Linked DNA regions of Homo sapiens: all the other regions are reported to be linked to region 3. Evidence: microRNA targets listed by miRTarBase, many of them from high-throughput screens and not tested one by one. Region 3 holds a microRNA gene; each other region holds the end of a gene's coding sequence.
What was found. The annotated mature microRNA hsa-miR-6811-3p reads AGCCUGUGCUUGUCCCUGCAG and lies in region 3 at 5,234-5,254, shown strand. An mRNA with a match to its seed (bases 2 to 7 or 8) in the 3' UTR can be bound and repressed. Matches are read on the target gene's strand: a 7mer-m8 pairs with bases 2 to 8, a 7mer-A1 pairs with bases 2 to 7 and ends in A, and an 8mer does both.

Region 1: miRTarBase lists PDE6B as a target of hsa-miR-6811-3p. Seed matches in the 3' UTR shown: 7mer-A1 at 1,346-1,352 and 7mer-m8 at 1,540-1,546.
Region 2: miRTarBase lists FOXK2 as a target of hsa-miR-6811-3p. Seed matches in the 3' UTR shown: 7mer-m8 at 6,541-6,547 and 7mer-m8 at 6,086-6,092.
Region 4: miRTarBase lists MANSC1 as a target of hsa-miR-6811-3p. Seed matches in the 3' UTR shown: 7mer-A1 at 6,732-6,738, 7mer-A1 at 6,599-6,605 and 7mer-m8 at 5,529-5,535.

What each region holds. Positions count from the first base shown.
Region 1 is chr4:669,171-676,170 of GRCh38, forward strand. It overlaps PDE6B (phosphodiesterase 6B), which reads left to right. Exons shown (of 22, transcript NM_000283.4): 22 at 876-1,612. The coding sequence ends at 937. ATP5ME (ATP synthase membrane subunit e) reads right to left here and starts at 5,106. Exons shown (of 4, transcript NM_007100.4): 1 at 5,042-5,106; 2 at 4,742-4,796; 3 at 4,133-4,231; 4 at 3,266-3,349. The coding sequence starts at 5,077. The coding sequence ends at 3,330. It overlaps MYL5 (myosin light chain 5), which reads left to right and starts at 5,372. Exons shown (of 9, transcript NM_002477.2): 1 at 5,372-5,513; 2 at 6,903-7,000. RefSeq lists enhancers at 5,238-5,995, 5,873-5,942 and a silencer at 5,393-5,662.
Region 2 is chr17:82,600,871-82,608,548 of GRCh38, reverse strand. FOXK2 (forkhead box K2) reads right to left here. Exons shown (of 9, transcript NM_004514.4): 9 at 3,947-7,246. The coding sequence ends at 7,050. Among named protein-coding and RNA genes, the nearest start is that of FOXK2-AS1, 16 kb to the right of the region's middle. RefSeq lists a silencer at 5,418-5,527.
Region 3 is chr2:237,505,735-237,513,434 of GRCh38, forward strand. It overlaps MIR6811 (microRNA 6811), which reads left to right and starts at 5,197; the gene lies at 5,197-5,254. It overlaps MLPH (melanophilin), which reads left to right. Exons shown (of 16, transcript NM_024101.7): 3 at 4,840-5,061; 4 at 5,255-5,367. RefSeq lists enhancers at 4,667-5,167, 5,168-5,668, 7,049-7,549, 7,550-7,700.
Region 4 is chr12:12,323,025-12,330,724 of GRCh38, forward strand. It overlaps MANSC1 (MANSC domain containing 1), which reads right to left. Exons shown (of 4, transcript NM_018050.4): 4 at 3,032-7,700. The coding sequence ends at 7,003. Among named protein-coding and RNA genes, the nearest start is that of MANSC1, 23 kb to the right of the region's middle. RefSeq lists an enhancer at 2,283-2,783.

The DNA of each region.
Region 1 (7,000 bases), not on the chromosome of region 3:
CCCCTACCCCATGCTATTCCCGCTATGCCATGCTATTCCCGCTACCCCATGCTATTCCCCTACCCTATGCTGCTCCCACTACCCCATGCTATTCCCACTACTCCATGCTGCTGCCACTACCCCATGCTAGTCCCACTACCCCATGCTATTCCCGCTACCCCATGCTATTCCCCTACCCCATGCTATTCCCACTACCCCATGCTATTCCCCTACCCCATGCTATCCCCCTACCCCATGCTATTCCCGCTACCCCATGCTATTCCCCTACCCCATGCTATTCCCACTACCCCATGCTATTCCCACTACGCCATGCTATTCCCGCTACCCCATGCTATTCCCACTACCCCATGCTATTCCCGCTACCCCATGCTATTCCCGCTACGCCATGCTATTCCCACTACCCCATGCTATTCCCGCTACCCCATGCTATTCCCGCTACCCCATGCTATTCCCGCTACCCCATGCTATTCCCCTACCCCATGCTATTCCCGCTACGCCATGCTATTCCCGCTACCCCATGCTATTCCCGCTACCCCATGCTATTCCCGCTACCCCATGCTATTCCCGCTACCCCATGCTATTCCCCTACCCCATGCTATCCCCCTACCCCATGCTATTCCCGCTATCCTATGCTACATAAACAAGGCGACTTCAGGACTATGGAAGGCCAGGATGAGCATAATCAGGGCACAGTGTCAACAGAGGCTAAAGCACTAAGAAAGGCTCAGCCCAGCTAATCGGCTTGGGCTGGTCACAGACCCAGGTGCTGTCCTTCCTCCTGCAGGGGTTGGTAGAGGTCACACCAGGCAGGAGGGAAGGAATAGGGCTGGTGTGCACAGGTGGTTCCACTCACCATCTTCTGTCTTCTCTTGCAGTAGGCACAGAAATTTGCAATGGCGGCCCAGCACCCAAGTCTTCAACCTGCTGTATCCTGTGAGCACTGGTCCCATGGGGACCCTATGGCTCCCTCAATCTTCACCCACTAGGATTTGGGTTCTGCCTGTGGCTATTTGCTACAAGAGGTTAGGAAGCCCAAGAAAATGACTGAAGATCATTCTGGATATTTTAATTTTTTTTTTTTTTTTTTTTTGAGATGGAGTCTTGCTCTGTCACCCAGGCTGGAGTGCCGTGGCACGATCTCAGCTCACTGCAACCTCCACCTCCCAGGTTCAAGCGATTCTCGTGCCTCAGCCTCCTGAGTAGCTGGGACTACAGGCGCCCACCACCACACATGGCTAATTTTTGTATTTTCAGTACAGATGGGGTTTCACCATATTGGGCAGGCTGGTCTCGAACTCCTGACCTCAGGTGATCACCCGCCTCAGCTTCCTGAAGTGCTGGGATTACAGGCATGAGCCACCACGCCCAGCCTGTTTTTATAAACTGAAGCCAACTGTGAATAAACTGTAGCCTACATTACTCATCCATTTTTGGATAGTTACCACTGGGAGACCTTTGAAAAGGGTCCATGAACTCTGAAATCACTGAGAACATTTGCAGCCACACATGTACATATGTGTACACAGGTAGACAGATGGACACAGGCCGTTTCTCATCCAGTTTAGGAAAACACACATGCTCAGGAATTCAGAATAAAATAAACAGAAAACTACTTGCCCATTATCTGTGGTAAAATGATAGCGGAAGCCACACTACATTTGACCCATCAGAAAATTCTGCCAGAGAGGTCAAGGCCATGAGTAAAGCGGCCATCCAACTTCAGTGGTCTGAGCGGAAATGATCTGTAATAAACACCATGTAGAGTGGCTCTGATGGCCCCAGACGGCACCAGGAGGGCAGTGCAGGGCTGGATGCCGAAGCCCGTGCACCCCCATGATTAAATATTGGTGAGCCTGGAGTGAAGGACAGAGGCAAAGAAACGGACTTCCCAGTTGAAATCGGTATTATGTTAAATTCAGGATGTTCAACTCATGATGTGAGCTCCAAGGCATTTGCTCCCAACACTAGATGACGCTTAACTAGATGGGCTCATTGGGGTGGGCGTGGGAGAGCAGCAGACATGCCCAGCACAGCCATGGGGCTGCAGGAAGGGGGTGCTGGGTTTTTTGCTTGAGACAGTCTCACTCTGTCACCCAGCCTGGAGTGGAGTGGTGTGATCTTGGCTCAATGCAACCTCCACCTTCCGGGTTCAAGCAATTCTCCTGCCTCAGCCTCCTGAGTAGCTGGGATTACAGGCACCCATCACCACAACCAGCTAATTTTTGTATTTTTAGTAAAGACAAGGTTTCGCCATGTTGGCCAGGCTGGTCTTGAACTCCTGACCTCAAGTGATCTGCCCACCTTGGCCTCCCAAAGTGCTGGGATTACAGGTGTGAACCACCGTGCCCAGCCTTTTCATCTCACTGGTCAGAGACCCCTGGTATCCAGAGCCTGGGTCTGGGATGAGGGGCTCTTAAGAGGTTCTGAGGGATCCTGCAAACAGCCCCTCTGGACGCCAGGACAGGATGTGAAAGTATCTTGCTCACTCAAAGCTCACCTTAACCAAATGTCCTGAAAAGCTTATAGGCTGCTTCTCCCTTTGGCCTTATATTTGCAAACGAACTCATTTTACAAACTGGGGCTCCAAGCCTAGATTTGCTCAAGGCACATAACTGGGAAGTAGCAAATTCAATCTGTCCATTGCAAACCACCAGGCCAAGGGTTTGGGTTGTTGGCAAGCTCACAGCCAGGAGGGGCGAGAAGCCCAGGAAGCCTGCTGGGGAGGGAAGTGGCTCAGGCACCACAAGACCACCTCCCTGCACAACTCAAACAGCACTCAGGCCCTGTGCTCAGGAGGTCACATCACCAGACTTTTAGTCCCAAGTCTGACCTGGCCACTTCCTGGGATCAAAGGGAGGATTTGTGAAATGGCAGGTTGGGGCGAGGGGTTATTGTGGAGGAGGACCCAGCTTCCCAACTGTAAGGGCGTCAGTCAGTGCCTACCCCTCCCCATCCAGGGGTCTGGGCTGCTGAGAGCAGCAGCCTAGAACTCAGAATCAAGACAACCCCAGTACTCATGAGGCCCCCAGCTGACTGACTCCATTACAGACGGCCTTTGGGGCTCCCCACCTGGATGCCCCAGACAGAACAGGCAGCGCGCATCTGTCCTTCCCACTGTGTTTACATGATGCATTCTGGGTCTGTGAATGGTAATGTGGATTCTTTTGAAACCCCCTCCCTGTCTTCCACCTCACGTGAACTGGGAGGTGGACAGAACTTCAACCTAGGAATTCCACAACCAGCGACAGCAAATGAGGAGCCGGAGTATCACACAACACAGGAAGCTTTATTCATCCGCTGCTGGTCCAAAGAGTGGGTCGCAGGGTCACTCACTTTAATATGCTGTCATCTTGGGCCGGAAGGTTAGAAGAAAAGCACATGTTACCACTCAGGCAACCTAAAAAGACCACTTCAGCTTCCCAGTTATTTTTTTTTTTTTTTTTTTTGTTTTGAGACGGAGTCTCGCTCTGTCACCCAATGGCGCAATCTCAGCTCACTGCAACCTCTGCATCCCAGGTTAAAGCGATTCTCCCACCTCAGCCTTCTGAGTAGCTGGGATTACATGCACCCGCCATCATGCCTGGCTAATTTTTTTTAGACAGAATTTCACTTTGCTGCTCAGGCTGGAGTGCAGTGGCGTGATCTCAGCTCACTGCAACCTCCGCCTCCCGGGTTCAAGCAATTCTCATGCCTCAGCTTTCTGAGTAGCTGGGATTACAGGTGCCTGCCACCATGCCCGGCTGATTTTTTGTATTTTAGTAGAAATGGGGTTTCACCATCTTGCCCAGGCTGGTCTCGAACTCCAGAGCTCAGGCAATCTGCCTGTCTCAGCCTCCCAAAGTGCTAGGATTACAGGCATGAGCCACCGCACCGGGCCATGCCCGGCTAATTTTTGTAGAGACAGGGTTGCACCATGTTGGTCAGGCTGGTCTTGAACTCCTAACCTCAGGTGATCTGCCCGCCTTGGCCTCCCAAAGTGCTGGGATACAGGCATGAGCCACCACGCCTGGCCAGCTTCCCCATTTTTAAACAATCCGCATCTACTTAGCTCTGCTTAAATGTCCTCCTCCATTTTCCTTATCCCTGCACAAACCTGGGAGGGACAATCTATAAGAGCCAGTGTCACTCGTACCTTCTGCCAATTCTCTGGCAATCCGTTTCAGTTCATCCTGCTTCTTCTTCTCTTCTGCTGCTATCCTCCTCTCCTCTTCTGCCCGAGGTTTTAGGTAATCTGTTTGGCGGAATGCAGGAGAATAAAATTCACTGGAAATGCTGTACAAAAGGAACTGAGTCCACAGGTCAAGGTATCTTCAGCGACGCTGTAAACCAGACGCACCTGCTGTTCCCGCTCTTTATGTTAATGCGAGTCAACGCCTGACCTTCACCCTGACGAGTCCAACCCAGAGGCTACAGGGCCCCTGCTGCCCACCCGCTCACGCACTGGCTCACTCGTCCTCTGCGAACAGGGACTGCCTCCCATCAAGACCTCAGCACTCGAACAGCCATTTAGCACCCGTTTTCACCAAGAAGCAGCCGTTTTCGAGTCCCCCGCCCGGGCCTCAGAAGCCTGAGCTTTGGGTGAGCTGATTCCACTATCGGGGTCACGCTCGGTGGAGGACACGGTCCTGCAGCCTCGCATGCGTCCCAAGCCCCCTTCCAGAGCTGGAGTTCTCCAAATAGCACAGGAGCTCCACAGGAAAGCCGAGCAGACCCCGCCCCGGCCCCGCCCGCGGTCACTCACTGTAGCGCGTGGCTCCGTAGGCCACACCGAGGAACAGGGCGGAGTAGCGGCCGAGCTGCGAAAGAGGTTGGTCAGAGGCGGCGCGAAACGGGGCTCGCGGGACGGGGGTCGCGGGAGGAGGGGGGGCGGGGTCGCTGGGCAGAGGTCGCAGGAGGGGTGGGGGTCCGGTCGCCGGGCGAGGGTCACGGGGCGAGGATCATGGGGGCGGGGGCCGGGGGTCGCAGCCCGCGGGGTCGGAGCTGCGGGGCGGGACACGGGGGGGCCCAGAGCACTGGGCGGCGGCTGCAAAGCCTGGATCACCTTGATGAGCGGAGAGACCTGCACCGGTGGCACCATCTTGTCCCTGACCTCCGCACCGGAAGCACAACCTGCAGACGGAGCAGGATGCCGCACAAGCCAGCAAAGCCTTGGAGGCAAAGGCGGAGCTGGGCGCACGCATGCGCCGTCAGCGGCGAGAGAGCGGGGGGCCGCGCCCCCTGGCGACCGAAGGGTGACTGCGCGCCCCCGCGCGGCGGTGACGTCACGTGAGGCGCACGCGCACAAAGGCTGGGGAGTGCGCGGAGGATCATCGGCTGCGCCTGCGCAGTTGCTGCGTGAGGCGGGATCTGCGCCGAGTGGGCGGGGGGTTTCCTTTCCCCGCAGGGCTGGGGGTCCGCTGTTTCCCCGCGCTGCTGCCGAGGCCCCGCCGTCCGCGTCCTGGCCGTGTGTCCACACCCCAGACTGCGGGCCGGGGCGCACTCTGTCTTCTTGCGCGGAGCGTCGGAGGCCTGAGGTCAGGGCGGCTCGGGCGGGTCCAGCCCCGCGGACCGCGCCCACCCGAGGGTGGCCTGGGCAGGGACCTGGGGGTCCTGGGAGCGGAGTGTGAGCCGAGTGCAGGTGGCTCCCCGGGCAGGTCCTTCTCCTACAAGGCAGTAGTGTCTGTCGCCGGCCGGGCCGCGTTGGATTCCGCGGCCCGCGGGAGCATGGCCTCCAGGCCCCTCTTCCTGCGGCTGCTCTGCCCGGGAGCACGGGGCGCCCTTCATCCCGGAGCTGGAGCTTCCTCACCCCAGGATGCCCCATCACTTCTGTCCCGAAGAGGGGCTGGGATCTTCTTGGGAAGACCAGCCCCCAACAGAGGCTGCTCCCTGGGTCCCCCGACTCCAGGCCTCAGGACTCCACGGCTCCAAGGGCCTGCCCCGGCCCAGGCCTGGGGACCACTGAGCCCCACACTGGTCTTTGCTGGCCTCTGTCCACCTCCCGGTAGCTGTGTGTCTCCCACAGCTGCCCAGAGATGGGGCCTGCGGTGCCTATGCAGCCTCCCCGCTGTGCCCGAAGTGCTGACCCGCCAGCCCCATGGACACCAGGCTTGGAGTCTAGGCAGGAGCCTGGCACCCCCTCCACGTTCTGGGTCTTCCTGGCGGCAGCCATGCTGCCCGTGCTGGGCCACCCTCGGGCCCCCTTTGGCCCCATGCAGTAGTGACGCAAGGCCTCCTGTGTCCCCTCCTGGCCCTGCACTGCTACAGGCAGAAGCAACTGGAGAACTATGGCTCGGGTCTCGCTAAGGTGCAGCATCACAAACTCCAGGACTCTTGAAGCAAGCATGGGGAGGACCCGTGATCCTGGCGGCCTGGGCTACCTGTCCGGGCCTAAGTCGCCTCTGCCCCCTCTCCTGGCTTGCTCTGGGGTCCAGGGCCTGGGCCTCTCTGGCTGAGAAACTAGGAAGTCACTGGGCTCTGTTTCCTGAGCTGGGTATACCAAGGCCAGTCCTATAGGGCAGGGGTCCCCAACCCCCAGGTGCAGACCAGTACCAGCTTGTGGCCCGTTAGGAACCGGGCAGCACAGGACGAGGTGAGGGAGCATGATTGCCCGAGCTCCACCCACTTTCAGATCAGCCTGGGCATCAGATTCCCATAGGAGCGTGAACCCTACTGTGAGCTGCGCACTTGGATCTGGATTGCGCTCTGGTGAGAATCTAATGCCTGATGAACTGAGGTGGAATAGTTTCATCCCGAAACCTTCCTCCCCAACACGGAAAAACTGTCCTCCGTGAAACCTGTCCCAGGCGCCAAAAAGGTTAGGTACTTGCTGTAGGGCCACCTGATCTTTTCTCCAGCTTCTGTGAGGTTGGCTGGCAGTCCCTGAAGACTCCTGCCTGAGGCCTCTGCCTGAACCCTGTCCTCAGGGGGCCAGAAGCAAACTCCAGCCCTCCCCGTGTCTACTGCTCGCTGAGGAAGCCGCAGGTGCACACTGGATCCACAAGGCACAGAACCATCTTGGCCC
Region 2 (7,678 bases), not on the chromosome of region 3:
TTTTATTTTTTCCCCTCAATTTTGATTTCTTTTTTCAATTTTGTTGCCTGCTTGCTTTACATTTACTTTGTTGTTGTTGTTTTTGAGACGGAGTCTCGCTCTGTCACCCAGGCTGGAGTGCAGTGGTGCGATCTCAGCTCACTGCAAGCTACGCCTCCCGGGTTCACGCCATTCTCCTGCCTCAGCCTCCCAAGTAGCTGGGACTACAGGCACCCGCCACCACGCCCGGCTAATTTTTTGTATTTTTAGTAGAGACGGGGTTTCACCGTGTTAGCCAGGATGGTCTCGATCTCCTGACCTCGTGATCTGCCCACCTCGGCCTCCCCAAGTGCTGGGATTACGGGCGTGAGCCACTGCGCCCGGCCTCAGAATGCAATTTTTTTAATCTTTATTTTTGAATATTTGCAGTGTACTTTCCATTTCAGCATCCTTGTTTGTCTGTTTTTTGAGACAAGGTCTCACTCCCATTGCCCAAGCTGGAGTGTGGTGGTGCAGTCACGGCTCAGTCCAGTTTCAGCTTCCTGGGTTCAGGCGATCCTCCCGCCTGGGCCTCCTGAGTGGCTGGGACTACAGGTGCACACCACCACACTTGGTTTATTTTTAGTAGAGACAGGATTTTGCCAAGTTGCCTAGGCTGGTCTCCAACTCCTGGGCTCAAGTGAGCCTCCCACTTCGACCCCCCAAAGTGTTGGGATGAGACACTGTGCCCCGCCCTGCATTCCTAATTCAAAAATTTGAAGTCCAAAATGCTCCAATGAATATTTCCTTTGAGCATCGTGTCAACACTCAAAGTTTCGGATTTTAGATTACTGAGTTTTCAGATTAGGAATACTCAACCTGGATAAGTCAGTTTTCTTTGGCTGCTTTCCAGGTTAAAAAAAAAATGTCTTTTCTTTAGTTTATTGCCTCAACATGGTTTTCCTTGAGATGATCTTATTGGAATTCACTCACCTTCGTGAATCTTTAAAGTATTTATTAAAAAAAAAAAAAAAATATATATATATATATATACACACACACACATATATAGGCCAGGCGCGGTGGCTCACGCCTGTAATCACAGCACTTGGGGAGGCCGAGGCGGGCGGATCATGAGGTCAGGAGATCAAGACCATCCTGGCTAAGACGGTGAAACCCCGTCTCTACTAAAAATACAAAAAATTAGCCGGGCGTGGTGGTGGGTGCCTGTAGTCCCAGCTACTCCGGAGGCTGAGGCAGGAGAATCGCTTGAACCTGGGAGGCAGAGCTTGCAGTGAGCCGAGATCGTGCCACTGCACTCCAGCCTGGGCAACAGAGCGAGACTCCGTCTCAAAAAAATAAATAAATAAAAATAAATTAAAAAAATATATATATATGTATTTTTTTTTTTAAATGAGACAGTCTCGCTGTCGCCCAGGCTGGAGTGCAGTGGCGCAATCTGCGCTCACTGCAACCTCCGCCTCCTGGGCTCAAGCGATTCTCCTGCCTCAGTCTCCCGAGTAGCTGAGATTACAGGTGTGTGCCACCATGCCCGGCTAATTTTTGTATTTTTAGTAGAGATGCGGTTTCACCATGTAGGCCGGGCTGGTCTTGATCTCCTGACCTCGTGATCCACCCACCTCGGCCGCCCAAAGTGCTGGGATTACAGTCATGAGCCACCGCGCCCACCCGGACTAAAATATTTCTTTAAAAAAAATTGTATACGTTGTTTCTCTGTTTTATAGGAATCTAGTGACATACACAGTAGACCCTTCAATCTTGTCCTACAAGTCCCAGTTCATTTTTGTTTCCAAATGTTTTTCTGTTTATTCACTGAATTTTTTCATTTCTTTGATTCAAGAGCATTTGCCCTTATTTCACAGAGCATGGTTATAATAACTGTTCTTTATCTGATATTCCCAATATTTGGGTCATGTGAGAGTTGGCATTCGGTCTTTTCACTTTAGGGCAGAGATTTTTCTGGCTCTTTTTACGTTTAGTAATTTTGTATTCTAGACATTCGGCATACCTTGAGACTCCCAAGTCCATGAAACCCTCTGCAGGATGCTGAGTTGTGTCTCAGCAGGCAAGTAACCCAGTTATGTTCTGATTGCATGTGCCAGCCTGCCTCCTGGAGCTGTGACTCTGGTGTCAGGCTAGTCTTCCAAGTCTGTGTCGTGCTGTTCACCCAGGGGCCAGTCTACACAGGAGTTGAGCTCAAATAGCCTTTGCTGTTTTCCCCACGTCAGTGCCATTCATGTGGAGCTTTAGGGGGTCTCTTAACTCCTCTGCTGTGTCCTTTGACTTAAAAGCCCAGGTTTCAGCCTCTCTGTGCTGTTCCCATTCCTATGACTAGGTCCAGCTTGGGGCCAAAGTGGAGCAGGGATTTCCCTCATGCTCTTTGGACTACAGGGGCCTGTTTTCCAATTCCTCTCGTCAGCGTGAAGGGTTCTGTGGGAGTCGCCAGCGTGAAGGGCTCTGTGGGAGTCGCCAGTGTCTGCAGGGCTGCTGCTTGCAGGAGTTTCCCACGACCGTCTCTGCCCAGGATGAGAGGGAAGCGGGCTTCTCTTGGAGATTTTAATGTTCATCCCTAATGTGCAGTTCGGATAGACCGCCCCCGACTAGGCCCAGCAACGGACTAGGCTCAGCAATGGGAGGGGAAAACCCAGGAAAAACCCATCACACCGGTCCTTGTTCTGGCTCTAGTCTGCCTGCTGTTCTGTATTATATACGACTGACTTTCCATAGGACTGAGATAGTTGCTCTGTTTGTTAGGTCCACAGTTAGTCATAACCCCTAGGAGACACAGGTGGAGGAGTCCACTGGAATCTTTGTAGCCAGTTTAGTCATCAGAGGTCACTTGAGACCCACTCTGAATTGTAATTTTGTGTTGCTGTGGACATAGCTCAGAAAGGGGGCAACAAACAGTGACAATTTCCCAGCACCCATCAACGCAGCCCGGGTGCACTGCAGACGCAGACCTGGCAGAAACAAATTACAAATGACTGCTTCACTTTGCTGGAAGAGGCAGTCTCGCAGGGCGTGATAAACAGTTCTTTTATGCCAGTATGAACTGTTTTAAATTAGGGGATCAGTGTAAGGAATAAAACAAACACTCCGTTATGAACTCTCTGTCCGTGAACATCATTTAGCTCCCAAAGGCCTCTGTGTCATTTTCAGCACGGTTTCTTCCCTCTGCTACCCTGGGGTGAGTACTGATAATGTCATCACGATTCCAGACATTAGCGATCCACACCAGATTTTCAGGGCCTGAAGATCAAAGTGTTCCTGTGTGGGAACTTGAATACCCAAGTACCTCTTCAGAAGAGCTGCTTTTTCTTTTTTTCTGAGACGGAGTCTCGCTCTGCCGCCCAGGCTGGAGTGCAGTGGCGCAATCTCGGCTCACTGCAAACTCCACCTCCCAGGTTCACGCCATTCTCCTGCCTCAGCCTCCCGAGTAGCTGGGACTACAAGCGCCCGCCACTGCGCCCGGCTAATTTTTTTTGTATTTTTAGTAGAGATGGGATTTCACCATGTTAGCCAGGATGTTCTCAATCTCCTGACCTCATGATCTGCCCGTCTCGGCCTCCCAAAGTGCTGGGATGACAGGCATGAGCCACCGCGCCGGCCAAGAGCTGCTTTTTCATTTTCTGAGAAAATGTCCCTCAAGATGCTTTGCAGTGATCTTCATTCTCAGGTTGGAGAGAAAGTCTGCAGAAGAAATAGTGGCAGCCACAATCTCCAAGTAACTTTAAAACTCCGACATCATAGATCAATCAATCAAGACCCTGTTACCACTGCCTGTGACACGGCGCCTTTTCTACCTGCACGCTCAACCCGCTGTCCCACTGGCAGGGCCTGCAGTGCTGGTCCTCAGTGCAGCTCCCTGGTTAAGTTCTTGCCAATGCGCTAGGCCTCCGGTGTGCTCAGAAGAGAGCATGAAGTAAAAAGTCAGTCAATCAAAATGAAAATGATACTCTGCATTCCATTAAAATTAATAAAAATATTTTATTGAATTTCAGGAACTTGGTACTTTTTTAAAACTTCAAATCTTTGCACACAAATCACCACTATACTTTCTAGAATAGTGGAAGTTAGGACTTCAAGATTGTCACTTATCTCCTTGTGTCACACAGCACAGAAACCCCAAGTCCTCACACTGCCCCCACCCCCCTTCTGGCCATGACTACCAACTACTCTGTTATTCTAGCGGAGGACAATGACGGAAGTGGGTAGACGACTGAAGGAGATCAGCTGTCCACCGCGTACTCTACTAAAGTGAGAGGAGGAGCAACCGAGGATCATGCCGCACACACTCTGAGTGCACCACGTGACGTGGGTCATACGGGAGTTCCCTTTTGTTTTCTCGTTTGGTTCAGGGCAAAGCTACTGAAATTGTTCCTAGTCCCTGAGGAGCTCAGAAGTTGGGCAAAGGTCACAGCAGACTTCCTGAAAAGCAGACACTGAGGAACACAGTGGAGAGCGGGAGTTCACAGCGACGCAGCTGAGGACGACGCAGGACCTCTCCCAAAGGTGCTGCAGCTCCAGCACCAGGGGCCAGGGCTGCGGCGACAGCAGCTCAGCAACCCTTGCTGTGCTCAAGTTCTTGGGGATTCAGAGCTAAGTTCAAAATTTAGAAACAGTGCCTTAAAGACGGGCAAGAAAACCCGGTGTGGGAGTCTGCTCATCTATGGTTTGTTACTGCTCTCGCTTCGATATTCTTAAATTCCTAGGTACCAATGAAAAAGCCAAGTGAACGTGGCAGAGTGAGGAGGAGACAGGAGCGTGTGCACCTTCCATCTGTGAGAGGCACACTTCAGTCTGGGTTCAAGATGCAGAATGGTGCCTACGGCAAAAAAAAAAAAAAAAAACACCCTCCTCCCTTCTTTACCATTTGAATGGACATTTTCCTTACCTGTGATCCCAACAGAAACAGATCCAGACCTATCATGTGAAGTCCACGTTCCAGGATCAGAAGTAACCAGTTTATGGACTGAGCTTACACGGGAAAGTCTACCCCCGACTCCTTCTGGATAGTAACATACACAGCTGCATAAAAACGTCTCCAAGGGGACATACGATGCATTTGCTTGGTGTCCCAGCCAAGCTCCCCACCGGCGACCTCACTGTTCCTTAGAGCTCAAGAGCTCGTCTCCTATCAATCAGAGAACCCCATCAGCTGTGACCAACAGAGCTGGAGCCCTCTGTGGAGGGAGCTGACCCCACACACAGGACAGAGCAGAATCCTGATTATTTTACAAACTGCAAACCTTCTGAGTAAGAAGACAAAAATATACATTCCAAGGTATCTGTAAAGTGCTTGGAAGATGCAGACAGCTGCACCGAGGGGCTCTGATCCATCCACACGCTGCGCTTTGCTGCGGTCACACACACGGTCTCAGTCACGTGATGGTTTTGCTTTTATTTCTTAAACGGCTGAGTGATAATCCAGCTAGTGTGCAGTCATTTCATACCTTTCAATGGGCGTCACCGCAGTGACGCTGCCCCAGCCCCATGCTGAGGGCCGACACAATTCACGGAACAGATTCATCATATTTGGTCTTTATGTAAATAATAAATGTTTTAAAATTGCCTAAATATACCATTCTGAGCCATTTCATCCCTATTTCATCCCACCAGGAAAATACAGGTTTTTTCCTCTCTAAAAAAAAATTAAATACCAAAATAACTACATTTAAATAAATAATGTTATGATGATGACATTTAAAAGCTCAGCCATCAGGCTGACGCCCTCTCCCCATGTGCACGGCCCTCGGCCCTCGGCCGGCACACTCGGGAAGGGCCAGCGGTTTTCTTCCTGAGGAGCCGGGCGAGGAGGTGCAGGGACCTCCCACTCTCATTCCCTCACCCCCGTCCTGTCCTCATTTTCCGTAGAGGAGTCAGCCTCAGGATTGGGTTCGGTTCTGAAAGGTCAGGGACATTTCCTACCACAAAACAGGAAATGCCCCAGACGTGCCCTGCAGGACGTGGCTCGGACCCTGCTCCACCATGGCGGCCGCTCACCGAAGGTGGGGAGTAGACAGCAGGTCAGAGGCCGCCTAGAGCCGGAGGGACACCCCAAATACAAACATACCACGGAGAGACCTGGGATCTGAGTTTCAAAAGGGCCTGTGATAAAAGACTGAATCTTTTTCCAAATGAAGTAGAAATGGTTCTGTCGTTTTAAACATACACAATACTTAGGAGACTTGTTTTACTCAGAGTGGAAAATTTTGCCAGGGACAAAGTCAACACAAAGAAACAAACAACAAAAAATAGCCAGAAAGAGAACAGTTAAGTGCAGCTCGGTGAGTCCCGGCAGTTCCTTCCCGGCACTGGCTCGTCCCTGGGTTCTCAAGGTTCCATGCGGCCACAGCGTCCGTCCACCTGTCCACGCGAGCCACATGCTGAAATGGAGGTGGATAAAATTCATCAGGCAGCTGCTGTAACACGGAAATGTGCAGATGCCAGAGTAGCTTCGTCTGAACTTGAACAAGACAGACAAAAGGAAATCATTCCATAGGCTGAAAACAAAAACAAAACTACGTTGTTTCTTTGCCCCAAATGAAATCCACGGAAAGGGCCTGTGTGATTCTGAAAGTCTCAGTAGAAATGGAGTGATGTGAAATGCCCAAGACCCCATTATTTTGTAAAGAAAGGACACCTCAAAATACTCTAATTCCACATGTCTCCGCTGCCTGGTGGGTCCTGTGAGGGCGGCGGGGATGGCTCCCCCCGCGTCCTGAGGCCTAGTCTTGGGAGACCCACTCACAGCAGGCGCTGGCCGTGCCGTCCTCACACAGCGATGCCTGGTCCTCGCGGGAGGACAGAGTTTCACTCGTAGGTAGAAGCTCAGCCCAGCAGGTGCTCAGTGGAGACACCGTCTCCCAAATCAGGTTTTGTTGTGTGTGGGTTTTGTTCAAGTGTGACTTCTGTCTTTAAGGAGTGTTAAGGCCAGCTGGGTTTTGGGTTTTCAGTGCTGAGAGGTGAAGTCCAACCACAGGGCCCTGCACCCCCGAGTGCTGGCGGGAGGCCGCGTCTCCTTTTGGCACCACAGAGTTGATATCGTTAAAGAAAAGCTCTCCCGGTCGCTAGTTCTGGACACCCTTTTCCCTTACGGCTGCCGGTGGCGTGTCCACGCTCAGGGCAATGACGATGCCCTCGCCGTCTTCTGTCTTGATCCGCTTCAGCTCCGGCTGCTCCGGCTGGTCACCGTTGTGGCGCTTTGTGGGCAGGGAGGCCGATGCGGATGCGTGTGTTGCCAACATGTGCAAAGGACTCGCCGCGGCTGAAATGACACGAGGGAGTCAGAACCCCACGCTCTCACGTGAACCCTCGCGACTCAGAACCCCACGCTCTCACGTGAACCCTCGCGAGTCAGAACCCCACGCTCTCATGTGAACTCTCGCCCTCTAAGGGTCCTGCCACTCCCAGGCCCGCGGAGGCTCCCACAAGACCCCAGGGACTGGCCCACGGTGGCCAAGGGCACAGGAGCCTGGGCTGGGCCCTTGGGACCCCAAAAAACTGCAGCAAGTGAACTGCCTGATTAGCGGACATTTTTATTAACAGCTGGCATCATCTTTGTTATGTCCTATAAATAGGCTATTTTGATGTCACTGCTGGGGGAGAAAGGCTGAGTCCAGTAGTGGTTGAGGCAGACAGGAGATGGCCCTGCTGGCTCGGCGAAGGAGTGGCTGCCGCTCGCTGCTCTCCCTCATGC
Region 3 (7,700 bases):
AGCGTTTTCCTTCCCTGGTATACGCCCTTTCTTCAGAGGCTGCCGGGCCTCCCTTGAGGACAGGAGTGCCCCCTTGGCTCTGTTCTGCCCCACCAGTCACAGCTCTGGCATGCGTGTCCCAGGGCCCTCTGGAGGTGGGACTGCAGAGGACAGTAATGTGGGTCCCCTGCCCCAAGGACAAGGACAGCACTTCCCTTCCACCCCCATGCATCCCCGTCTCCAGGGCTCTGTCTCCCCTGGGAGCTCACTTTCTCGGCCTTTGCCATCATCTCCCCACTGTCTCCCATCGCTTAGTCCCTTTTCTCCACATTCTGGGAGGGAGAGCAAACTTGACTTCGAAATCAGCAGTTCTCAAACCTTTGGGCCTCAGGACCCCTTCACATTTCCTAAATTACTGAGAACCCCAAAGAGTTTTATTCATATGGGTCATATCTATTAATATTTACCACATCAGAAATTAAAACTGGGAGTTAAAAATATTTATTTATTCACTCATTTAAAAATAACAGTAAACCCCCTACATGTTAATATAAATACAGTTTTTATAAAAAATGAGATTTTCCCAAAATCAGAGTGTGAGTAAGGTGAGTGGTGTTGTTCTGCTTTTGCAAATCTCTTTAATGTCTGTGTAGCAGGACAAGCCACAGACAAGAACTCCTCAGACACCGAATTGTAGAAGGAAAGGGCTTTATTCAGCTGGGAGCATCGGCAGACTCACGTCTCCAAAAACCAAGTTCCTCGAGTGAGCAATTCCTGTCCCTTTTAAGGGCTTACAACTCTAAGGGGGTTCATGTGAGAGGGTCATGATCGATTGAGCAAGCAGGGGGTACGTGACTGGGGGCTACATGCACCTGCACCAGTAATTAGAATGGAACAGAACAGGACAGGGATTTTCACAATGCTTTTCCGTGCAATGTCTGTAATCTATAGATAACATAACTGATTAGGTCAGGGGTCGATCTTTAACTACCAGGCCCAGGGTGTGGCGCTGGGCTGTCTGCCTGTGGATTTCATTTCTGCCTTTTAGTTTTTACTTCTTTTTTCTTTGGAGGCAGAAATTGGGCATAAGACAATATGAGGGGTGGTCTCCTCCCTTATCTGGAACAATAGAAGATGGGTGAATTCTCCACTTGCTTCTGCATTCAGTGGGTCGTAACATGTTTTCTAGGCTGTAGTATTTGAAGAAAATCTAGGCTCATACAGATACATAATTGAAAAAAGGAGTACTTGAATAGCCTTTGTAGACAATAATTAACATCATGTGTTGTTACAACATGAAAACCCGGCAGTTGGAGTTGGTAGTTTTTTTCCTTTTTCTTTTTTTTTTCTTTTTTTTTTTTTTTTTTTTTGAGACAAAGTCTCTCTCTGCCACCCTTGGATGGAGTGCAGTAGCGTAATCTCGGCTTACTGCAACCTCCACCTCCTAGGTTCAAGCGATTCCCCTGCCTCAGCCTCCTAAGTAGCTGTGACTACAGGTGCGTGCCACCATGTCTGGCTAATTTTTGCATTTTTAGTAGAGACAGGGTTTCACCACATTGGCCGAGCTAGTCTCAAACTCCTGACCTCAAGTGATCTGCCTGCCTCAGCCTCCCAAAGTGCTGGAATTACAGGCATGAGCCACTGCGCCCGGCCAGTTGGTAGTTTCTTAAAGGTTAGTTGTGATGTGGAATCTGAAACCATGTTAATGAACTTTTCCTTTTCTGTTTGTTCAAATCCATTGGTCTCTCTTGCACTTGAAGTGGATTTTCTACCCCTGTGTGATTTTTGTAACACCATGCATTAATCATTTGGAAGACACCGGCTCACTGAGTGATGCAGACTTCTCAAATGTTGACACATTTCATATGCACACCAAAAGAGAACCACTTCTGTTACTCTCACCAGCGATCTCATCAAAAGTCTCCCGGTGTTGGAAACCCTCATCAAAAGTCTCCCAGTGTTGCAAACTGTCAAGCTCACAGCAGGCGATATATGTTTTCCAGAATTCTACTTTGTGCTTGAAAGCTTCCGTTTTATTACTGGCAATAAATACTGTCACTTCTTTTCCTTGAAGTGAGAGTCGCACTTTGTTCATTTTTGAGAAAATATCTGCCAAGTACCCAAGTCGAAACAGTTCATCTCTCTGTTGTTCTCTCAAGTGAAAATGCTATTTCATAAGAAAAGTTTCTAGCTCAGGTGGCGATCGGAACAATTGCCCAATCCTTTTAATAGAAATATCTGTCACCTTCAACACGTGGCACAAGAGCTTCCTGTCCTCCTCCAAGCTCATCAGGCAGAATCCTCAAAAGACATGGACTGGGGGCCACGGTTCAAAAAGACTCATAACTTTTAGGGTTTCATCAAGGTGATTCTTTAATGAAACTGTTTTTTCTTCTCATTTCTTTTTCTTTTTTTTGAGACAGAATCTCACTCTGTCACCCACGCTGGAGTGCAGTGACACAATCTCGGCTCACTGCAACCTCTGCTTCCCTGGTTCAAGCGACTCTCCTGCCTCAGCCTCCTGAGTAGCAGGGATTACAGGTGTCCACCACTGTGCCTGGCTAATTTTTGTATTTTTAGTAGAGACGGGGTTTCACCATGTTGGCCAGGCTGGTCTTGAACTCCTTACCTCAGGTGATCCACCTTCCTCAGCCTCCCAAAGTGATGGGATTACAGGTGTGAGCCACTGCACCCAGCTCATTTCTTTTTCAATGAAGGATCTAATGACTGTCAGAGCAGTTGGGCCCACTGCCCTGACTCGTGCTAAAGCCTCAGCAGTTTATCCACCATTGTTTTTACACCTTCAGTGCAGGCATCAAAGAGCAAAGAAAAGGCAAATGATGTCTCAGCATTATTACAAAAATAGCTTTGGCCTTGTGACTCACCCCCCTAAAGGATCTTAGGAACCTCCAGAAGAGAGGTCCCTGGACCACACTTTGAAGACCACTCTTCGAAATCATTGGATCTAATATTCCACGGTAGAAATTGTGCCCATTTCCCCCTCCATTGTGAGCTGTGATTTCTCGCCATCTCTGTCTTAACCAGTTCTTCTCCACCTCCACCAGCATAGCCGGTGGTGCTCCCATCTCAGCCTGGTTTCCTCCTGTGTCTCCTCTGTCCCTCTCATTGAGACTGCACGTACTTGCTTATGCCCCATTCAGCACACCAAGCTGACTTGTTTCGAGTCTGTTTCTGATGGTAAGTCACATTCAGGAGGGTCTTTTATTCCTGAAGCTAACTTTAAATTGGAGCCACGTGCCGGGCTCTTGCCTGTTGAGGAGTGACTTCTGGTCAACCCAATTAGCAGAGTGCATGGAGTGCTCTGGCCCCATTCACTCCTCAGGATCGGAAGCTCCGGGTCTTGTTGATACGTCCTGGAGTGGCTGGCAGATGTCATTTGGTCTCCCCAAATGGAGTCTTCTCTGCCCTCCCTTCCTGGTCTCTGGCTATGAAGAAGGGAAGTTATGTTTTAAAGAATCTAAAGCACAGTACAGTTCTCCTTTCCCCTAATTTCAGCCTCTGAAATATATCAGCCTCCAGCTGCTGCCCCAGGACACTTCTGGGCTCTTATTTAAGAGGACTCCTCCAGCCTGGAATGCAGGGCAGTACACATGTCCTTGTCTTTCTTCCTGCTGTGCTGGCCCTCAGGGTACCGTTCTGCCTGGATACAGAAGAAGAGGTTCTCCCTGGGACAGAGGCTAACAAGCCCTGTCCAGCGAAGGGGTGGCCTCCAGGTTTTCTGGTTGGTGCAGAGCTGGCAAGGGTGGAAATGGAGGGAGTGAGGCCCTTCCCATCTGGCTCCAGGGACTTGTGCTCCTCTGTTTGGGACAAAGACTTTACCTTGTCAATGCAGCTTTATCTAAACTGTAGTCTGTGGATGGCGGTATCCCCCTAGATTCCTACAACTGCTTGACCCTTTTTCTCTTGGTTTTTGAAGCTATGACAAGAGCCTGATTTCGTGTCCATCTCAGTGAACATTTTTGTAAATAGTGGAGAGAGGAAAATCGTGAAGTTCAGCCAATTGCACTTGAAACCGGAGGTGGCCTCCCCCTGCCTGGTGGGACTCCTCCACTCTCTTCACCTTTGCTGCACTCTGGGTGTCCGCCTCCAAATCAGTGTGCTTCAGAGTTCTCAGAAGACAATGGCACCTAGTGTCCTTCTTGTTTTTGTCACTAAGAATGGATTAATTTTATCTCATCTGAAACTGAAAATATTACGTTTGGCAGACATTCTCTGAAATCTAGAACAAAAGAAATGTGTTCATTATCATCTAAGGATACACTTTCCAATCAGTTCAACTTGGCAGGTTCACCAGGAAGCTGTGTTATTTAAACTCGGATGGTCTAGGAGAACTGTAGACTTCCGGGTGCTAGATGATTCCTGCTCTGGAAACTCACCGAGCCATTTCAGCTGCGCTCTAGAGGAGCAAACCTGGGGCGTTAGCTCAACTCTTGCCCCCCTGCTGAAGGAGACCAAAACAATGCTTGATCAGGAAACACCATCTGGCTTTGCCCCCAGGATTCTGTGACTGCCCTGGGGAGGGCGCAGTGACCTGCCAACCAAAATTGGTACAATTGTAAACAGCCACAGAAATGCTTAAATGCAATATCATTTCTATGAAATTAACGTGTTTCCATTCCATTCCAGCCACCAAAATTGCCCGTTTGAGCTCAGCCCTCAAAACAAAGATGCCTGTGTGGCTTTGCCCAACGTTGGGTCACTGTTTTCTGCATAGGAGACAGTTACTGTGTGTGTGTATGTGTCTGTGTCTGTGTGTGTGTGTATGTACGTGTACACACTTAAAGCCTGTTGCAAAAACAAGATGCCCAATATATTTCTTGTTTCTGATATTTTCCCAAGGGCGTTGAAGGGCAAGATTAAGAAGGAAAGCTCCAAGAGGGAGCTGCTTTCCGACACTGCCCATCTGAACGAGACCCACTGCGCCCGCTGCCTGCAGCCCTACCAGCTGCTTGTGAATAGCAAAAGGCAGTGCCTGGAATGTGGCCTCTTCACCTGCAAAAGCTGTGGCCGCGTCCACCCGGAGGAGCAGGGCTGGATCTGTGACCCCTGCCATCTGGCCAGGTGAGCCCAGGCCTTGAGGTAAAATGACCTTGATAGTTTCTGGATCTGGCGTGTCCCTTCCATGGGGCTAGCTGAAGAAGGGTGGACGCACACATGCACACACTCGTGTGTGTGTGTGTGTGTGTGTGTGAGATTTATGCAGGCCTGTGTACAGCACTCAGGCAGTGCCATGAGCCTGTGCTTGTCCCTGCAGAGTCGTGAAGATCGGCTCACTGGAGTGGTACTATGAGCATGTGAAAGCCCGCTTCAAGAGGTTCGGAAGTGCCAAGGTCATCCGGTCCCTCCACGGGCGGCTGCAGGGTGGAGGTAAGGAGTGGAGAGTAAGAACGGCTTTTTGTTCCCAGGCATTTTAGGAATATTAAAGCAGGTTCCTTTGGAGTGTGCATGTGTGTGTGTACGTGTGTGTGTGCATGTGTGTGTGCACATGTGTGTGCATGCACATGCCTCTCTGTGAATTCCTGCTTCTGGCTGCTTTTTTTTTTTTTTTTTAATTTTTGTAGAGACAGGCATCTCACCATGTTTCCCAGACTGGCCTCGAACTCCTGGGCTCAAGCAATCCACCCACCTCAGCCTCCCGAAGTGCTGGGGTTATAAGTGTGAGCCACTGTGCCCTGTGAAATTGGCTCCTTTTTATGTGAGGTGCAAACCTCTGCATCCCACTGGCCTGGTCTGAGCACCTCAGAAGTCCTGGGTGCTGCTGAAGTTGCCAATATTTGAAATTATATTGTTTTCAAATCTTCAAAGTAAGTTGAGAACTCAAAGCCAAGTTTCTGAAACCCAGCTGCTGATTGAATCACCAGGGTGCTTGTTAATACTACATGTTTTCCAAGCCCTTCTTCCCTGGGACATCTGGTTTGGGGCCTAGGCTCTCTCTTTTCAACAAACATTTCACATGAATCTGGTGATTATCAAGATTTAGAGAAATCTGTTGTAATTCAGTTGTTTTCATCTTTTGAATCCAAGTATTTATTTCATGATGAATTTGAAATCCAGGCAGTAGGCTTAAACTAAACAATGTGTTCGCCTGTAAGATCCCCCATAAGGCATTTGGAAGAGATCTTTTCAGGGAGAGGGTGGGAGGATGCCGGGGGGTCTTTTGCATTTGAGTTTGAAGGGAGCTAACCCATCAGTGTTTTTGAGAAAGCTCACCTTGTCCCTGTTACCTGGAGTCCAAGGCTTCTGCCACTAAGCCCGGCCAAGCATTCGGGTGGGACAGCCGCCACCAAGCCAGGTGTCTGGGGTCTCAGTGTCCTGGATGACTCCATCTGCAAGACCAAGGCGAGTTTCTCCAGGGCCACGAGGCAGCGCCTGGCTCCGGCAGCTGGGCACGTCCAGGGCAGAGGCTGTGCTTCTGGATTGGGGCGTCCTCACCATGCCCCAGCCCAGGCGTCTCCCCCAGGCCTTCCTTCTGGAGAGACACCTTATTCGTGCCTGTCTCTTAAAGCCTCAAGTTTGATTGAAGAAGCAGAAGTTGGCATAGACACCTTTGAGCATTCAAGCTCTCGCCGGGCCTGCTGCAGGCATTTCAAGGCATCTTAGCCCATCGTTTAATTTAGGACAGAGGCCACGGAGAGGCACCGCTGGAGCAGTACACCGCACACCACAGGGTGGCTGCACTTTTTGGGTGGTGGGGTGGGGATGGGGGCAGGTATGATCAATCATCCAAACCAGGGCATTTTTAAGAGTAAAAGGAGGCTCTACTGATAACATGCTGCAACAACAGATGTGACTAGGAACGGCCGGTGACATGGGGAGGGCCTATCACCCTATTCTTGGGGGCTGCTTCTTCACAGTGATCATGAAGCCTAGCAGCAAATCCCACCTCCCCACACGCACACGGCCAGCCTGGAGCCCACAGAAGGGTCCTCCTGCAGCCAGTGGAGCTTGGTCCAGCCTCCAGTCCACCCCTAACAGGCTTAAGGATAGAAACGACACATAACACCGGGAAAAGCCATGCTGTCAAGCATCTCAGAATCTCAACCCCAGAGGCAGTCTTTAGGGACTGGGGTGGGCTCAGGAAGCTGTATTATTTCAAAGGACGCAGTGTTTCCACAGCTCAGCCCAGAGCTGCTGGAGTTCACACGGCCCACCAGAACCTGCTGACTTCAAAATCATCACCACCAAGGGGCCAGGAGGTGGCGCTGTGGGGCAACAGAAAACAGAAAACAGCTGCTCCTTGAACTTGGATTCCCAGCAGCTCCCCCAAGCGCCCACAGGGGCTGCATTCCTCCCTGCTGGACACCTGTAACTACAACATTAAAACAGGGCGCAAGCAAGGAACACAAACACTGGGAAAGCTGTGCCTTTAAAAAAAAAAAAAAAAAGGAGGGTAAAAAAGCTTAAGGTTAATGTTTTGAAACCTGACCCAGCCAGGGCCTAATGCAGACCTTGTCCAGCTAGTAAGTGGGCCTCTGGGGGTCTTCATTGAGTGAACCTTCAGAGTGCTGGTGTTTCACCAAGGCCTTCCATAGAGGACGCGGCAGGCTCTGCAGGAAGCAGCTTCGATGGCCGATGGCCAAGAAAGGAAGGGAAAACCCCTGGACTGGTCGCTGGGCACCCAGTCCCCCTACCCCCGTGCCTTCCCTTCCAGTGCCTTTCCCTCTTTCCCTCGGTGGTAGCTTTGCCTGACAGTGCAGACC
Region 4 (7,700 bases), not on the chromosome of region 3:
GAGGGGAGGAGAGGGGGAGGGGAGGGGGGAGGGAGGGGAGGGAGAAAGAAAGGAAGGGAGGGAGGAGGAGGGGAGGGGGAGGGGAGGGGGAGGGGAGGGGAGGGGGAGGGGAGGGGGAGGGGAAGGGAGGGGGATGGGAGGGGAGAGGAGGGGGAGGGGAGCGGGATGGGAGGGGAGGGGGGAGGGAGGGGAGGGAAGGGAGAAAGGAAGGAAGGAAGGAAGGGAGAGAAAGCAAGGGAAAGAAGGAAAGAAAGAAAGGGAAAATAATCAAAAATATAAGAACACAAACAAAAGCACATTCTGTCAGCTCATCCTCTCTATAGGCTAAGGAAACTATACTATCTGAACCCAAAGGAGAGAAATAAACAAAATCAAATACTTATCTACCCATCCCTCTGCACACGGTCTTAGTTGAAGTGAGAGTATACACTTCATTACTGTGTACCTGGATTTTATCCCATTCTGCTACAAAATGCACGTCAGTGCGTTCACTTTCACTGCATGATATAGAAGCTGTTCTGTATGCAGCCAAATCACATTACTGCCCATTGCTGAAAGAAATGACCTTCAATGAACGGGTTATAAAATTCACTCATGATCACTTATTGAATGCCTATGTGCCAGACACACTGTTAAGCATGATGGAATCAGAGAAATGTTGCTGTCTAACGTATCCCAGTCTAGTGGGGTAATATATAACCTGATACATTATGATTCCATGGAAGTGTTTCACTAATGGTATAAATCACGAGCTGTGTCAGAAACCCAGGAGGAATTGATACGTCTCCCGGGAGAGTGTGGGGAGACTCTGGTGGAGGTGACGTGTGATCGTGGTCTTGAAGGATGAGCGGAAATTTGCCAAGTGAACAAGGGGGAAAGGAATTTACAAGTAGAGGGAAGAGGATGGCTCGTCAAAGTGTCTGGCAATACTGAGAAATGTTGAAAAGGGTGGTGTAGCTACAGCCCAGGTTTCACGGGACAGAGGTAGCTGCAGTGTGGTTAGGTTGGGGCTAGTGCATGGGGAGCCTTGGTACACCTGCCACGTGCAACTGGTAATCATCCCTAGAGGTACTGGGAGCACAGAGTGTCATGCGTGGAGTTACATGTACTGTGTGCTGTGCTTTTAATGTAACTTGAAGTCGTAAGGAGGGAATATATGATGTGGGAGCAGAGCAAGGAGAAGCAAGTTAGGGAGACCAAACAGGAGGCAGCAGTGGGGACGGCTGACTTTGAGAGGCGTCTTTGAAAGACAATAGGTAATATTTGGTAGACATTGGATGTGGAGGCTGAGGCAGCAGGAGAAACAGAGTATGACTTTGAAGTTGCTCAATACAGGAGATACTGGGTGGCTGGCGGTACTATTAACCCAGATGACAGGACACGGAAACAGGATGGGTTCTCTGCTCCGGCGTGTCCCTGAGGAGTCACTCTTAACTTTGGTACAGGTGATCAGCAACTGGGAAAGTGTATGAAGCCCACTCCAGAATGAGACCACTGACCTCTTCATTTCCATGCTTTCGGCTCAAGGTATCATTCGGCTCAACACCATTTAAAAGCTATCTAGGCTGGGTGTAGTGGCTCACACCTGTAATCCCAGCACTTTGGGAGGCCGAGGCGGGTGGATCACTTGAGGTCAGGAGTTCAAGACCAGCCTGGCCAACATGGTGAAACCCCATCTCTACAAAAAAATTAAAAAATTAGCTGGGTGTGGTGGTGGGTGCCTGTAATCCCAGCTACTTGGGAGTCTGAGGCAGGAGAATTGCTTGAACCCGGGAGGCAGAGGTTGCAGTGAGCTGAGATCGTGCCACTGCACTCCAGCCTGGGTGACAGAGCAAGATGCCGTCTAAAAACCAAAATAAAAAGCTATCTAGGGGCAGGCTTATGCCTGTAATCTCGACACTTTGGGAGGCTGAGGCGGGCAGATCACCTGAGGTCTGGAGTTCAAGACCAGCCTGGCCAACATGGTGAAACCCCATCTCCTTTACTAAAAATACAAAATTAGCTGGCCATGGTAGTGCACACCCATAATCCCAGCTACTCAGGAGGCTGAGGCAGGAGAATCGCTTGAACCCAGGAGCAGAGGTTGCAATGAGCCAAGATCATGCCATTGCACTCCAGCCTGGGCGACAAGAGAAAACTCTGTCTCTAAATAAATAAATAAAAATAAAAGCTATTTAGGGCCAGGCATGGTGGCTCATGCCTGTAATCCCAGCACTTCAGAAGGCTGAAATGGGCAGATTGCTTGAGTCCAGGGGTTTGAGACCAGCCTGGCCAACATGGCAAAACCCTGTATCTACAAAAATACAAAAATTAGCTGGGCGTGGTGGCACATGCCTGTAGTCCCAGCTACTTGGGGGGCTGAGGCAGGAGGATTACTTGAGCCCGAGAGTTGGAGGCTGCAGTAAGCTGTGTTTGCGCCACTACACTCCAGCCTGGGTGACAAAGCAAAATTGTCTCAAACAACAACAACAAAAACAACAACAAAAAGCTTTCTAGAACATTTCCAATCTAGTGCAAACCTCTTTTTGGTTACACCGTGTATCATTCCAGTTATAAGAATGTAAAAAGTGGCAACTCCGGAGCCAGGCTATCTGGGCAAGTGACCTCTGGAAAGGCCCTTAAACTTCGCTGTGTCTCAGTTTCCTTATCTACAGAATAAGGATTAAAATTATTCAAAAGGTTGTTGTGGAATTGAAATGAGTTAGTATATGTAAAAGTGAATCTGGCGCATAGTGTAAGTACTTTCTTTTGTGGAGTCTTGCTCTGTCGCTCAGGCTGGAGTGCAGGGGTGCAATCTTGGCTCACTACAAACTCTGCCCCCGCCACGCCCAGCTAATTTTTGTATTTTTAGTAGAGATGGGGTTTCGTCATGTTGGCCAGGCTGGTTTCGAACTCCTGACCTCAGGTGATCCACCCGCCTCGGCCTCCCAAAGTGCTGGGATTACAGGCGTGAGCCACTGTGCCCGGCCCATAGTGTAAGTACTTTCTAAGTGTTTGCTATCAATAAGTAATAAATCATAGAATACTCGACTGAAAGTGGTACAAATATTAGAGATTTATTATTACAGAACAAGATGGAAGTTGGCAGTTCCAGGGTTTGTCCTGTCAATTAACCAAGGCATCCCGGAGACTGGACTCTTCCTGTACCCACTGCCACGCTCAGTGTGGCAGTGCCTTCTCCCCTCATCATGGCAGGGAGGCCACCACAGCTCCAACAACCAAGTCTTCACATGGTCAGCATCCCAAGCATGAAATAAGGGGATGTGGTTAGAAAGGGCTTTTCTCCTTGTGCAGCCTTCCCTTTACAAGCAAGAAAATCTCTCCTAGAAGTCCCTAGTAGGTTTCCTTTCAGCTAAAACTTGGGTCACAGGCCCATCCCTGAACCTGGCACTTCCAACCTGTAACAAATGAGGCAGAAGTGGGACTAGGGCTGGCTGCTGGGCAGCTGACCGGTAGTGCCCACCACAGTCTGGGAGCCAAAGAGTTCCAAAAGTTCCTCACTCAGGCCAGGGGTAATTGAGAAACAGGCACATAACAGTATTCATCCAGGAGTCCTCAGGTTTTTTAAGAGTTTTTTAGTTTTTTTTTTGTTGTTGTTGTTTTGTTTTTTTTTTTGAGATGGGCTCTCGTTCTGTCGCCCAGGCTGGAGTGCAGTGGCGTGATCATGGCTCACTGCAGCCTCGACCTCCTGGGCTCAAGTGATCCTCCCACCTCAGTCTCCCAAAGGGCTGAGATTACAGATGTGAGCCACTATGTGCCTGGCTAAGAGTAGCTTATTTTTATTTTATTTTATTTTATTTTTTTGAGATAGAGTCTTGCTCTGTCGCCTAGGCTGGAGTGCAATGGAGCGATCTTGGCTCACTGCAACCGCCCCCTCCCGGCCTCAAGCAATTATCCTACCTCAGCCTCCCAAGTAGCTGGGATTACAGGTGTCTGCCACCATGCCTGGCTAATTTTTGTATTTCTGTAGAGATGGGGTTTCACCATGTTGGCCAGGCTGGTCTAGAACTCCTGACCTCAGGTGATCCACCCACCTTGGACTCCCAAAGTGCTGGGATTACAGGCGTGAGCCACCACGCCTGGCCAAGAGTAGCTTTTTAACCTAGGTCAGTATCGTGTTGGTAAAATACGGAGAGAGGATGTTTGAGCAGAAGGACCTACCTCATCTTCTCACCTGTTCTAGGCTGCTACCTTCTCTTTCTACAAACCAAAGGAGGGGGCTCATAACTCAATGGGCCTTGTGGGAAAGGCTAACCAGACTAGTCACTGCTGAATTCCTCTAAGGGATTCCCCTACCCTGACTGCCCTTGCCACAGTTGCACCCACCATCCTAGGGGCAGTAAGTAGAGAGAGCTGTGTGAGAAGAGCACTCTTTCCACTCCAGATGTCCCCTACAACCTATATCCTCACGGCCACTAACAGTTTGGGCCCGTAGCATCACTCATCTGGACCGCTCCCATGTGGTCTCCCCATCACAACAAAGACTGCAGCAAGGTGGACAGAGAACTCCAAGAGAGCCAGGAAAATACCTTTATAAACCATCACAGAAAGCCTGATTTCCACTCGCTAAATCCATTAATAAAGAGAGGAGAAATTTTAAAATTCCAAGGCACCTGGTTACTAATCTGATTCTGGCCTACATGTGGATATTCAATAAATACTTGTTAAGTTAAATTGACTCAAGGTTTTATTTATTCAGCCTACTTAAAGCTTATGTAAACCCCTTGGAGATTTGTGTCAAGCTGTTAAGTTGGAAAATATAAGAAAAGTAGTATTTTCAATAGACCAGCTTTCCTCTTAATGTACTTTATGAACTTAGTGTAAACCAGGGAAATGGGGGAGGGGTACCAGAAGAGCAGAGGGGAAGGAGGTGAGGAGGAAGGAAGAGGTGAGGAGGAAGGAGAAGAAAAGCCTTTTCTGTCATTTCCTGCATTTGTCTTAATTGCTGTACTTATTAACCAGCTACTGCCCTCTAGTGCTCACTGTATTAAGTTCGCATCTGAATTCCATTTTTATCTTTAAAAACTCTGGTGACACTTGGAAGGGATCAAATTTCCTGTTTTGCAGATAAGCAAATTGAAGTCCAGAGGAAAGAGGTATCAAACTGACCCAGGGGACTTCTGGACTCTTTGTTACCTCACCTATAACTTGTCTGGAAAACTTTATTAAAAGCCTTTCTCAGAAATTTTAATTGGTAACCAGTAAAAATTGTAGCATCATGTTAGTGCTAGTTATTATTATTATTATTTTTGAGACGGAGTCTGGCTCTGTTGCCCAGGCTGGAGCGCAATGGTGCAATCTGGCTCACCGCAACCTCCGCCTCCTGGATTCAAACTACTCTCCTGCCTCAGCCTCCCAAGTAGCTGGAACTACAGGCGCCCGCCACCACGCCCGGCTAATTTTTTGTATTTTTAGTAGAGGCGGGGTTTCACCGTGTTAGCCAGGATGGTCTCGATCTCCTGACCTCGTGATTTGCCCATCTCGGCCTCCCAAAGTGCTGGGATTACAGGCGTGAGCCACCGCGCCTGGCCTGTGCTAGTTATTATTTCCAATGTTGTTCTAAATTAAGCTTAGACTGATTGCTGGTCAATTTAAGTAAGGATATAAAATAATAGTGGTACATTTTTAACTTAGTACAAGTTTAGAAAATGTCTATAATACTTCTTTAAAAAGTTAACTAGAGGCCGGGCACGGTGGCTCACGCCTGTAATCCCAGCACTTTGGGAGGCCGAGGCGGGCGGATCACAAGGTCAGGAGATCGAGACCATCCTGACTAACACAGTGAAACCCCGTCTTTACTAAAAATATAAAAAATTAGCTGGGCGTGTTGGCGGGCGCCTGTAGTCCCAGCTACTTGGGAGGCTGAGGCAGGAGAATGGCGGGAACCCAGGAGGCGGAGCTGGCAGTGAGCCGAGATCGCGCCACTGCACTCTAGCCTGGGTGACAGAGCAAGACTCTGTCACACACACACACACACACACACACACACACACACACACACAAGTTAACTAGAACAGATCCCAAGTGGATATGGCCATTTATCAGAACTGACTTATCATTGTCTCCATGTGGGCTAACATTCCGCTAGATTCTCCCAAGTGAAGCTCTTTGCTCACTGATGGGAAAAAGGGGGGGTTGTCATTTTAACGTGGAACGCATATTTTCACCACATAATCATTTTGCTAGTGGAAATAAATGGAAAGTTATCCAGCTGGACATGCTACTTATGAGAACACTACTGAGTAACAAAAGATTTATTCAAATATTTAATTGGAAGGAACTACATCTGGAATAAGTTTTAAAGGAATCCATATAAAAAGAAAAGCAAATCCATTAGAAATTGATATAAACAGTTGATTTTATCTGGAACCAAGAATGTGAATGAATTGGAACCTAGATGTCCTAACCTGTTTCTTTGCATAAAAGCCAGTTGAATTTTGAAATTTATATGGCAATTATACTTTATTACTTTACATAGAGCTTTGTTTTTAGCTAATATTTTAGAGACAGATTACCCAAAATTACCTAATTTGGTTCCCACTTCATTCCTTCTCAAAAACCAAACATAAAACAGAAGGGGGCCAGCTGTGGTGGCTCATGCCTGTAATCCCAGCACTTTGGGAGGCCGAGGAGGGTGGATCACTAGGTCAGGAGTTTGAGACCAGCCTGACCAACATGGTGAAACCCCGTCTCTACTAAAAATACAAAAATCACCCAGGTGTGGTGGCACATGCCTGTAATCCCAGATACTTAGGAGGCTGAGGCAGGAGAATCGCTTGAACCCAGGAGACGGAGGTTGCGGTGAGAGCCGAGATCGTGCTACTGCACTCCAGCCTGGGCAACAAAGCAAGACTCTGTCTCCAAAAAAAAAAAAGGAAAGCAGAAGGGGGCATTTTCCTGTCTTCAAAATACAACCTCCTGCTAAGACTAGCAAGTCAGCAGAAACTCATTGCATTTGGGCTTCTGGTTACTAAATGAATTAAGAGACACCGAGTTCCATCCTTAGATGTCCACATAGATCCCATTGATCAAATAATCCAGTCTTGAGTAACGTTTCCTGCGGAGTGATTCCGAGAGGATTCTACCCAGGAGGACGAGGCCTATCACCAGGAACAGGACACCAAAGAGCAGGGACCCGATAAGAAGCCATTTTTCAAATGGAAGGCCGTACTGATTTTCTGGAACACTGCCCTGGGAGGAACTGCCTGGACTGGCCTCCCTACCTTCCCAGGAAGCAGTTTTATTCATAGTGGAAGACTCCACATTTGACATAGAAAGTGCAGTAGGGTTATACACATTCCCTGTGTTCAAAGTTAGGTTGGAGATTTCTGTAAACGGTATGGTTTCTAAGCTGCCTTTCGAGTCCGTAGGTGCCTGAAAGGTGGTAGTCAGAACTGCTGTTGTAGCCATTGCTTGGAGTGTAGCCGCAGCCCGTGTAAAAACTGTAGAAATGAGGGTCGTGGGAGGCTGAGAAGTGACAGTGGTTACAGGTGGAGCTGTGGTGGCCAGCTGTGGCTGGGAAGTCCCAGAAGGTGTCACTGAAGCATTGGTGGGTAGAAGGGTGGCGGGCTTTGGAGTAGCCGAGGTGGTATGTGGAGAAGCAACTGCCACCGTAGCTGGGAGCGCACTCACATTTTCAGGCAGCAGATGAGCTATTTCTTGATCAGAGGAAAATTGTGAACTCTGAGAATGGCCTTTTT